Linked DNA regions of Homo sapiens. The protein of the gene in region 1 interacts with the protein of each later gene in a biochemical or structural test. Each region holds a gene or a part of one and is shown on either strand. Other genes may lie near its edges.

The links. The genes of interacting proteins can lie anywhere in the genome.
Region 2: the proteins of CYCS (region 1) and COX4I2 form a complex in vitro, tested with the Homo sapiens proteins (4 studies listed by BioGRID).

The regions. Positions count from the first base shown.
Region 1 is NC_000007.14:25,123,925-25,127,669, forward strand, and holds the start of CYCS (cytochrome c), read right to left. Parts: upstream 1,337-3,745; 5' UTR 1,276-1,336; intron 204-1,275; 5' UTR 196-203; coding exon 27-195; intron 1-26. UniProt on the Homo sapiens protein: Electron carrier protein. The oxidized form of the cytochrome c heme group can accept an electron from the heme group of the cytochrome c1 subunit of cytochrome reductase.
Region 2 is NC_000020.11:31,635,692-31,639,436, reverse strand, and holds the start of COX4I2 (cytochrome c oxidase subunit 4 isoform 2, mitochondrial), read right to left. Parts: upstream 1,526-3,745; 5' UTR 1,475-1,525; intron 420-1,474; coding exon 338-419; intron 329-337; exon of another isoform or gene 254-328; coding exon of another isoform or gene 157-253; intron 1-156. UniProt on the Homo sapiens protein: Component of the cytochrome c oxidase, the last enzyme in the mitochondrial electron transport chain which drives oxidative phosphorylation.

The sequences.
Region 1 (3,745 bases):
TGTTTTATTTAACAAGTGACTCTTACCTTTGTTCTTATTGGCGGCTGTGTAAGAGTATCCAGGGGCCTGACCTGTCTTCCGCCCAAAGAGACCATGGAGATTTGGCCCAGTCTTGTGCTTGCCTCCCTTTTCAACGGTGTGGCACTGGGAACACTTCATAATAAAAATCTTCTTGCCTTTCTCAACATCACCCATATTTAATTCTAAAAACGAAAGCTTCAACTTAGTAAATTTTTCCTCAGGTAACAAATACAGTGTAAATGAATGACCACTCTAGCCACTTAATTACCAATCCATTGCTAATTTATGTCATTAAATACCAGAATGAATCTTGTTTTGCTTTAATACTCTTTATACCAAATATTCTTTAATACCAAAAACATTTTTAGGAGTACCTCCTCAAAAACGTATTTTTGTGTGTATACGTGAAGGAACGTTAAAGCCCAAGCAAAGAGGGAACCTAATTCAAACTCCAGTTTCAGAAGAGACAATCATGGTCACGAAGTCACAGATCTGAAGCTCAAGGGCGAACACATTAAGCCAAAATCACCACAACCGCAACTTTTAAAAAGACCTAACCATTTAATCTTACTACAATGTAAAGCCACCTCTCCCTGAGGATAACGCAAAGCACACAAATGTTTAAAAAGCGGTCCTGGCTGTTTCTATCTGCCCAGGTCACAGGAGTAGCTTGACACTCGAACTTGTGAATGGGAGCTCAGGGGCAGGCTGCACGGTCCCCCGGGGACATCCCAACTCCCCTACCTGTGATCTCCTGGGGCGACCACGAGGTCACCCGTCCAGGTCGGTTTCAAGGTGATTGATGAAACTCCTTCTAGGATGTCAGAACGACTGACGGAAGAAACATGTGCCCACGAAAAGAACTGGCCCCTTATTAGAAGAGCAACAGCTTTTGCCCTCTGAAGAAGAACGTGAAGCTCTAAGCTTCGGCTTTCCAGGAGGGAAGTCTTGCCTATCATTTCCATAGCCCTTCAGCAACCACTACGGAAGAGGCCGCCTCCTCCTCGGATCTGTATCCAAGCCGCCTCCAGTCCCTGACCGAGACCATACCTGTCCCTAGTTAGGGCTCCGCCGCACCTCAAGCCGTTACTCGCCCAGCTCGGTCTGACCACAGTCCAGGGTCTTCACTCCCCGCCCTCCCACCCAGCGCGGGCTCCACTCGAATGCTCCCCGCTTGGGTTTCGGTCGCTCGCAAGTGCGCGCCTCCCACAGCTCTGCCTCTAACCAGGTGCGGCCTCCGCGACCCGCTCTCACCTCTTTTTAGTCGCTGGCACAACGAACACTCCCGCTCCGAAGCCGGACGTCCCCACTCTCTAAGTCCAAGGACACGCCGGTCCGCGCTTAAGTACCGGTGTAAGTGCAACCAAACTCGCTCCGCGCTCCCGCGCCCTGACGTGCGGCCGAGCTGGCGGCTACGCAGTAACGTCGCCGCACCTCATTGGCTCCAGTCCCAATGCCTGCGCCAAGGACCTGCGCGCGCATGCTGGCGAGCATGTTAGGGTGTACGGCGTGCGTGCCCTTCTTCTCGAGGCTTTTCCCGGCCGTTACGACAGGCCTTTGGTCGTACGACAACGAGGTGGTGTCGGGAGAGGTGACGTCACTCGCGGGCCTCTGTGCGCTTGCGTGTGCTGGAGGAGCGGGGAGGGTGGGGCGGAGTCGCTTGGTTGGTGCGTTGCCCTGCTAAAGTATCAGTTCTTGGGCGTGGTGATGTAATGAGCTTTGAGCAGGGCGTTTTGCCGGTCCAGGAAAAGACGCCCTAATTTTGGCGCACCTAGAGGTCTCCTAGCTACCATCTTGTCAGCAGGCGACCTTTACCCAGACTCTGTCCTACTACCACGGCTGGCGCCAACAGCATCCTAGAGGGACAGCCTGGAACCAGGAGTTACACGAGTTGGGCACCAGCTCGTGACCTTGTTCTAGTTCCACCTATACTCTGTTACTTTCAGTCACATTCCAGCTCTCCGCTTGATGGACGCCCCAAGACTGAGGAAGGTGCTGCATTTGCGGCAGAGACAGGATTATCCCTCTGGAACTGAAAAATAAAATTAAGAGGATGCAATGATAACATTTATGTACCTTTTAAAATTTTTATGAGTACGAAGTAGGTAAATATATATATATACTTAAGAGGTACATGAGATATTTTGATACAGGCATACAATGTATAATAATCACATCAGGGTAAACGGTCTATCCATCACCTCAAGCATTTATCCTTTTTTTCTGTTACAAGCAATCCAATTATACTTTTAGTTTGTTTAATGTACAATAAATTATTGTTGAGTGTAGTCACCCTGTTGTATTACTAGACCTTATTCATTCTTCTTCAGTGGCGCCATTTAATGTCTCAGCCCCCCAAGTAGCTGGGACTACGGGAGCAAACCACCACGCCCAGCTAATTTTTGTATTTTTAGTAGAGATGGGGTTTCACTATTTGGTCAGGCTGGTCTCGAACTCCTGACCTCAGGTGATTCACCCGCATCGGCCTCCCAAAGTGCTGGGATTACAGGTGTGAGCCACCACGCCCAGGGCAAATAATATTTTATAACCCATTGTTTTAAACTGATGACAACATAACATTGATTGCATAAACAAAAATCAAAGAGAAAACTAAGAAAAACTCTGCACTTTAACTTCACTCTCCCCACTTTTAAAACTTTTTCTTGTTTCTATTTATATATTATTATACTATGTCTTGAAAAGTTGTTATAGCTATTATTTTTGATAAGTTAGGTTAATCTCTAAGTCTTTCTACTCAAGATATGAACAGTTTACACACAATTACAGTATTATAATATTGTGTGTTTTTCTGTGTACTTACTATTAGTAGTGAGTTTTGTACCTTCAGGTGGTTTCTTATTGCTTACGAATGTCCTTTTCTTTCAGACTGAGGAACTCCCTTTAGCATTTCTTGTAGGACAGGTCTGGTGTTGATGAAATCCCTCAGCTTCTGTTTGCCTGGGAAAGTCTTTATTTCTCCCTCACATCTGAAGGATATTTTCACTGGATGTACTATTCTAGGATAAAAGTTTTTTCCCTCAGCACTTTAAATATGTAATGCCACTCCCTCCCGGCCTGTAAAGTTCCACTGATAAGTTTGCTGCCAGACTTATTAGAACTCCTTTTTATGTTATTTGTTTCTTTTCTCTTGCTTGCTTTTAGGATTCTTTCTTTATCCTGGATCTTTGGGAGTTTGATTATTAAATGTTTTGGGGTGTCTTCGTTGGGTTAAATCTGCTTGGTGTTTTATAACCTTCTTGTACTTGAATATTGATATCTTTCTCTAGGTTTGGGAAGTTCTCTGTCATTATCTCGCTGAATAAACTTTCTACCCTGATCTCTCTCTCTAGCTCCTCTTTATGGCCAGTAACTCTTAGATTTGCCCTTTGAAGCCAGTTTCTAGATCTTATAGGTGTACCTCATTCATTTTTATTCTTTTTTCTTTTGTCTCTTCTGAGTGTGTATTTTCAAATAGCCCATCTTCAAGCTCACTAATTCTTCCTTCTGTTTGATCAATTCTGCCTGTAAGGGACTGCATTTTTTAGTACGTTAATTGGATTTTTCAGCTTCAGAATTTCTGCTAGATTCTTTTTAATTGTTTTAATCTCTGTTAAATTTATCTTGTAGAATTCTGAATTTCTTCTCTGTGTTATCTTGAATTTTGTTGAGCTTCCTCAACACAGCTATTTTGAATTCTCTGTTTGAAAAGTCACATATCTCTTTC
Region 2 (3,745 bases), on another chromosome or scaffold:
CTTCTTACTAGCATTGAAACTAGGGTCTGGAAAGGAGGAATCAGGGTCCAAGGTTCTGTCAGCATCCTCCACCTCAGAACAAAAGGTCTAGGGGCCTGAGGCTTGGGGGCTGGCTCCTAAGGAAGCTTGGAATGGAGATGACCACTGTCTGCTCACCCCGCGCACTCCATTTCCTGGAGAAACTTGACCTTGGACCAAGGAGTGGGATCATGGGAACATGGGAAGTGTGGTAGGAACAGGCCCAGGGTGGCATGGAAGGGCAAAGGGGGCAGCCTGCAGAGGGGACCCCTGCCCCTATCTCTGGAGTTAGGCAGGGAGGAAGGAGTCCAGGTCTCACTGGTGCCTTCTGAGCTGTGCATCCCTCGTCTTCCACCTCCACCTTTCCTCAGCACCAAGCTCCAGGCAGCTCTGGGGAGCATCTGGGGGCGTGAAGGTATAGATGAGTTCTGCCCCCACATCACCCTCTGCCCCCAAACCGCAGGGCCAGATGGAAAAATCCTTTTCCACTGGTATGGTAGTGGTAGGGGTGTCCCAGTGTTTCAAGGTCACCCTCATGCCCTTGACCCTTCTAATTTTGTCTGATATCCCCAGCGGGGGGCCAATGGGGGTCCTAGACCTTTGAAGCCCCTTTTTGGGACCTCAATTCACCATCTGAGAAGTGGGAGGAGGCCTAAGTCTTGGGCCAGGGTCTGAAGAGTTTGAGGCTGAGGGCTTGGGTTCTGGTGCCAGCCCCAGCTCAGTCTGGCCAGATTGGAGAACCCCGCTCACTTGTTTGCTCCCCAGAGGAAGCTGGGTGGGGTCCAGGTGGAGAGGGAGCAGTTCTTGAGTCTCTCTTCCCTGCAGGGGCCAGAGGCCCCTGCACCGGCAGAACAGACAGACGGTCTGGCCCCCACCCCTTCCCCCCTAATTGGCTGCCTACGTGCACACAGGCCTGCTCTGCTGGATCTGGTTGGGGTGGGGACTGGGCTTAGCCAGTCTGGCTGAGCCCAGTCTCCCACCCCCAGGGAAGACTCAGGGTTTGGCATCCATGGTGGTGGGGAGGGGCTTTAGAGGATGGGGACTTAACTGGGTCAGAGGGAGGGAGACACACATCTGGGGAAAAGAAGGGGAGTCCCACATCTAGGGAGAGAGAGGGGCACCCAACAAATAGAGTGAGGGAGGGGGCACACTACAGGTGATAAGTGGGAGGGGGCGGCCCACACTTCTGGAAAAGAGGGGCTCCGGCCAGTGATTATGATTAGTGGGTGGGAGAGCTCCACATATCAAGAGAGGGAGGATGTAATCTATATTTGGGGAAAGAGATGGCACACATATGCAGACTCCCCAGGAGTCTTCAACTCTAACCTACAAGAAGCCCCCCAACCCTCTAAGACAGGGACCACTGGGGCGTGACCCAGCGGCGAAGGCAGGAGACCGAGCCGCGCCCCTGACCCGCGCGGGCTTGGGTGGCGGGGTCCTCCCCCAACTCACTCACCTCGCGGGCTCGGCAGTGGGAGCGCGACCTGGGTCTGCCCAGCGAGCAACTGAGAACCCGCTGCGGAGGGACCTGAGTGCGGGCGCCCGCCCCCGGCCCGCCCCACAGCCTTTCTCGGGGCCGCCCCAGCGTGGGAACGTCCTGCTTCGGCAGGGCGTGGGAGCGCACAGCCTGCGTCCCTGGGGGCACCCCGGCCCACAGATTGGGGGGAGGCACTGCAGAGCGCCTCCTGCATCAGTGTCCCTACCGGGGTCCTGCCTCTGGAGACCCTCTGCAGACAGTAGTCCCAAGAACAGGGTCTCCCTGCCTCCTCCACACCTCCCCTCCTTGCTGTTTCTCCCACCTGGGATGTTCTCTTCAGGCCTTTGCAGACGCAAACCTTCCAGCCAGGCCCAATGCCTCCTACTCCAGAAGCATCTTTTAGGCCAGCAGTGGCTCACGCCTGTAATCCTAGCACTTTGGGAGGCCGAGGCGGGAGGATCACCTGAGGTCAGGAGTTTGAGACCAGCCTGCCCAGCATGGCGAAACACCTTCTCTATTAAAAATAGAAAAATTGGGCGGGCGCGGTGGCTCATGCCTGTAATCTCAGCGCTTTGGGAGGCCAAGGCAGGCAAATCACGAGGTCAGGAGTTTGAGACAGCTTAGCCAACATGGTGAAACCCCATCTTTACTAAGAATACAAAAATTAGCTGGGCGTGGTGGCACGCACCTGTAATCCCAGCTACTCAGGAGGCTGAGGCAGGAGAATCGCTTGAACCCGGGAGGCGGAGGTTGCGGTGAGTCGAGATCCGGCTACTGCACTCTAGCCTGGGCAGCAGAGCTAGACTCCATCTCAAAAAAAAAAAAAAAAAAAAAAAAAGTTAGCAGGGCGTGGTGGCGCGCACCTATAGTCCCAGCTTCACAGAGGGCTGAGGCAGGAGAATCACTTGAACCTGGGAAGCGGCTGTTGCAGTGAGCCGAGATCGGGCCACTGCACTCCAGCCTGGGCAACAGAACAAGACTCTGTCTCAGAAAAAAAGAAAAAGAAAAAGAAAAAAAAAATTCCCAGCACTTTGGGAGGCCAAGGGGGGCAGATCATGAGGTCAGGAGATGGAGACCATCCTGGCTAACACAGCGAAACCCCGTCTCTACTAAAAATGCAAACAAAATTAGCCAGGCATGGTGGCAGGCGCCTGTGGTCCCAGCTACTCAGGAGGCTGAGGCAGGAGAATGGCTTGAACCCGCAAGGCAGAGGTTGCGGTGAGCCAAGATCATGCCACTGCACTCGAGCCTAGTGACAGAGCGAGACTCCATCTCAAAAAAAAAAAAAAAAAAAATAGACAAGGCTCAGGCACATTTATTCAAGAATTACTTATAAAACTGGGCGTGGTGGCTCATGCCTGCAATCCCAGCACTCTGGGAGGCGGAGGCGAGCAGATCACCTAACGTCAAGAGTTTGAGACCACCCTGGCCAACGTGGTGAAATCCCGTCTCTACTAAAAATACAAAAATTAGCCGAGTGTGGCAGGGGACACCTATAATTCCAGCTACTCGGGAGGCTGAGGCTAGATAATCGCTTGAACCTGGGAGGCAGACGTTGCAGTGAGCCAAGATCGCACCACTGCACTCCAGCCTGGGTGGTAGAGTGAGACTCCTCAAAAAAAAAAAAAAAAAAAAAAAAACTTAAAAAAAACTTATAAAGACCTGTTTCAGCTGGCATTTATTGCATACTTGTTTACCAGGATAAATGTTGGGGGCTATAGAGCCAAAAAAAACCAGACATAGTTCCTGCCCCCACAGGGCTTACAATTCTGTTCTAGGCAGAGGAAAAGGCCTGTGCAAAGACCCAGAGGCAGGAAAACACAGCATGTTCAAAAAACAGAAGAGACAGGCCAGGTGCAGTGGCTCACGCTGTAATCCCAGCACTTTGGGAGGTCAAGGCAGGTGGATCACAAGATCAGGAGATCGAGACCAGCCTGGCTAACACGGTGAAACCCCATCTCTACCAAAAATACAAAAAATTAGCCAGGCGTGGTGGCATGCACCTGTAGTCCCAGCTACTTGGGAGGCTGAGGCAGGAGAATCGCTTGAACCCGGGAGGTGGAGGTTGCAGTGAGCCAAGATTGCACCATTGCACTCCAGCCTGGGCGACAGAACGAGACTCCGTCTCAAAAAAAAAAAAAAAAACAACTGAACAGAAGAGACAGCCAGGTGCGGTGGCTCATGCCTATAATCCCAGCACTTTGGGAGGCCGAGGCGAATGGATCACCTGAGGTCGGGAGTTTGAGACCA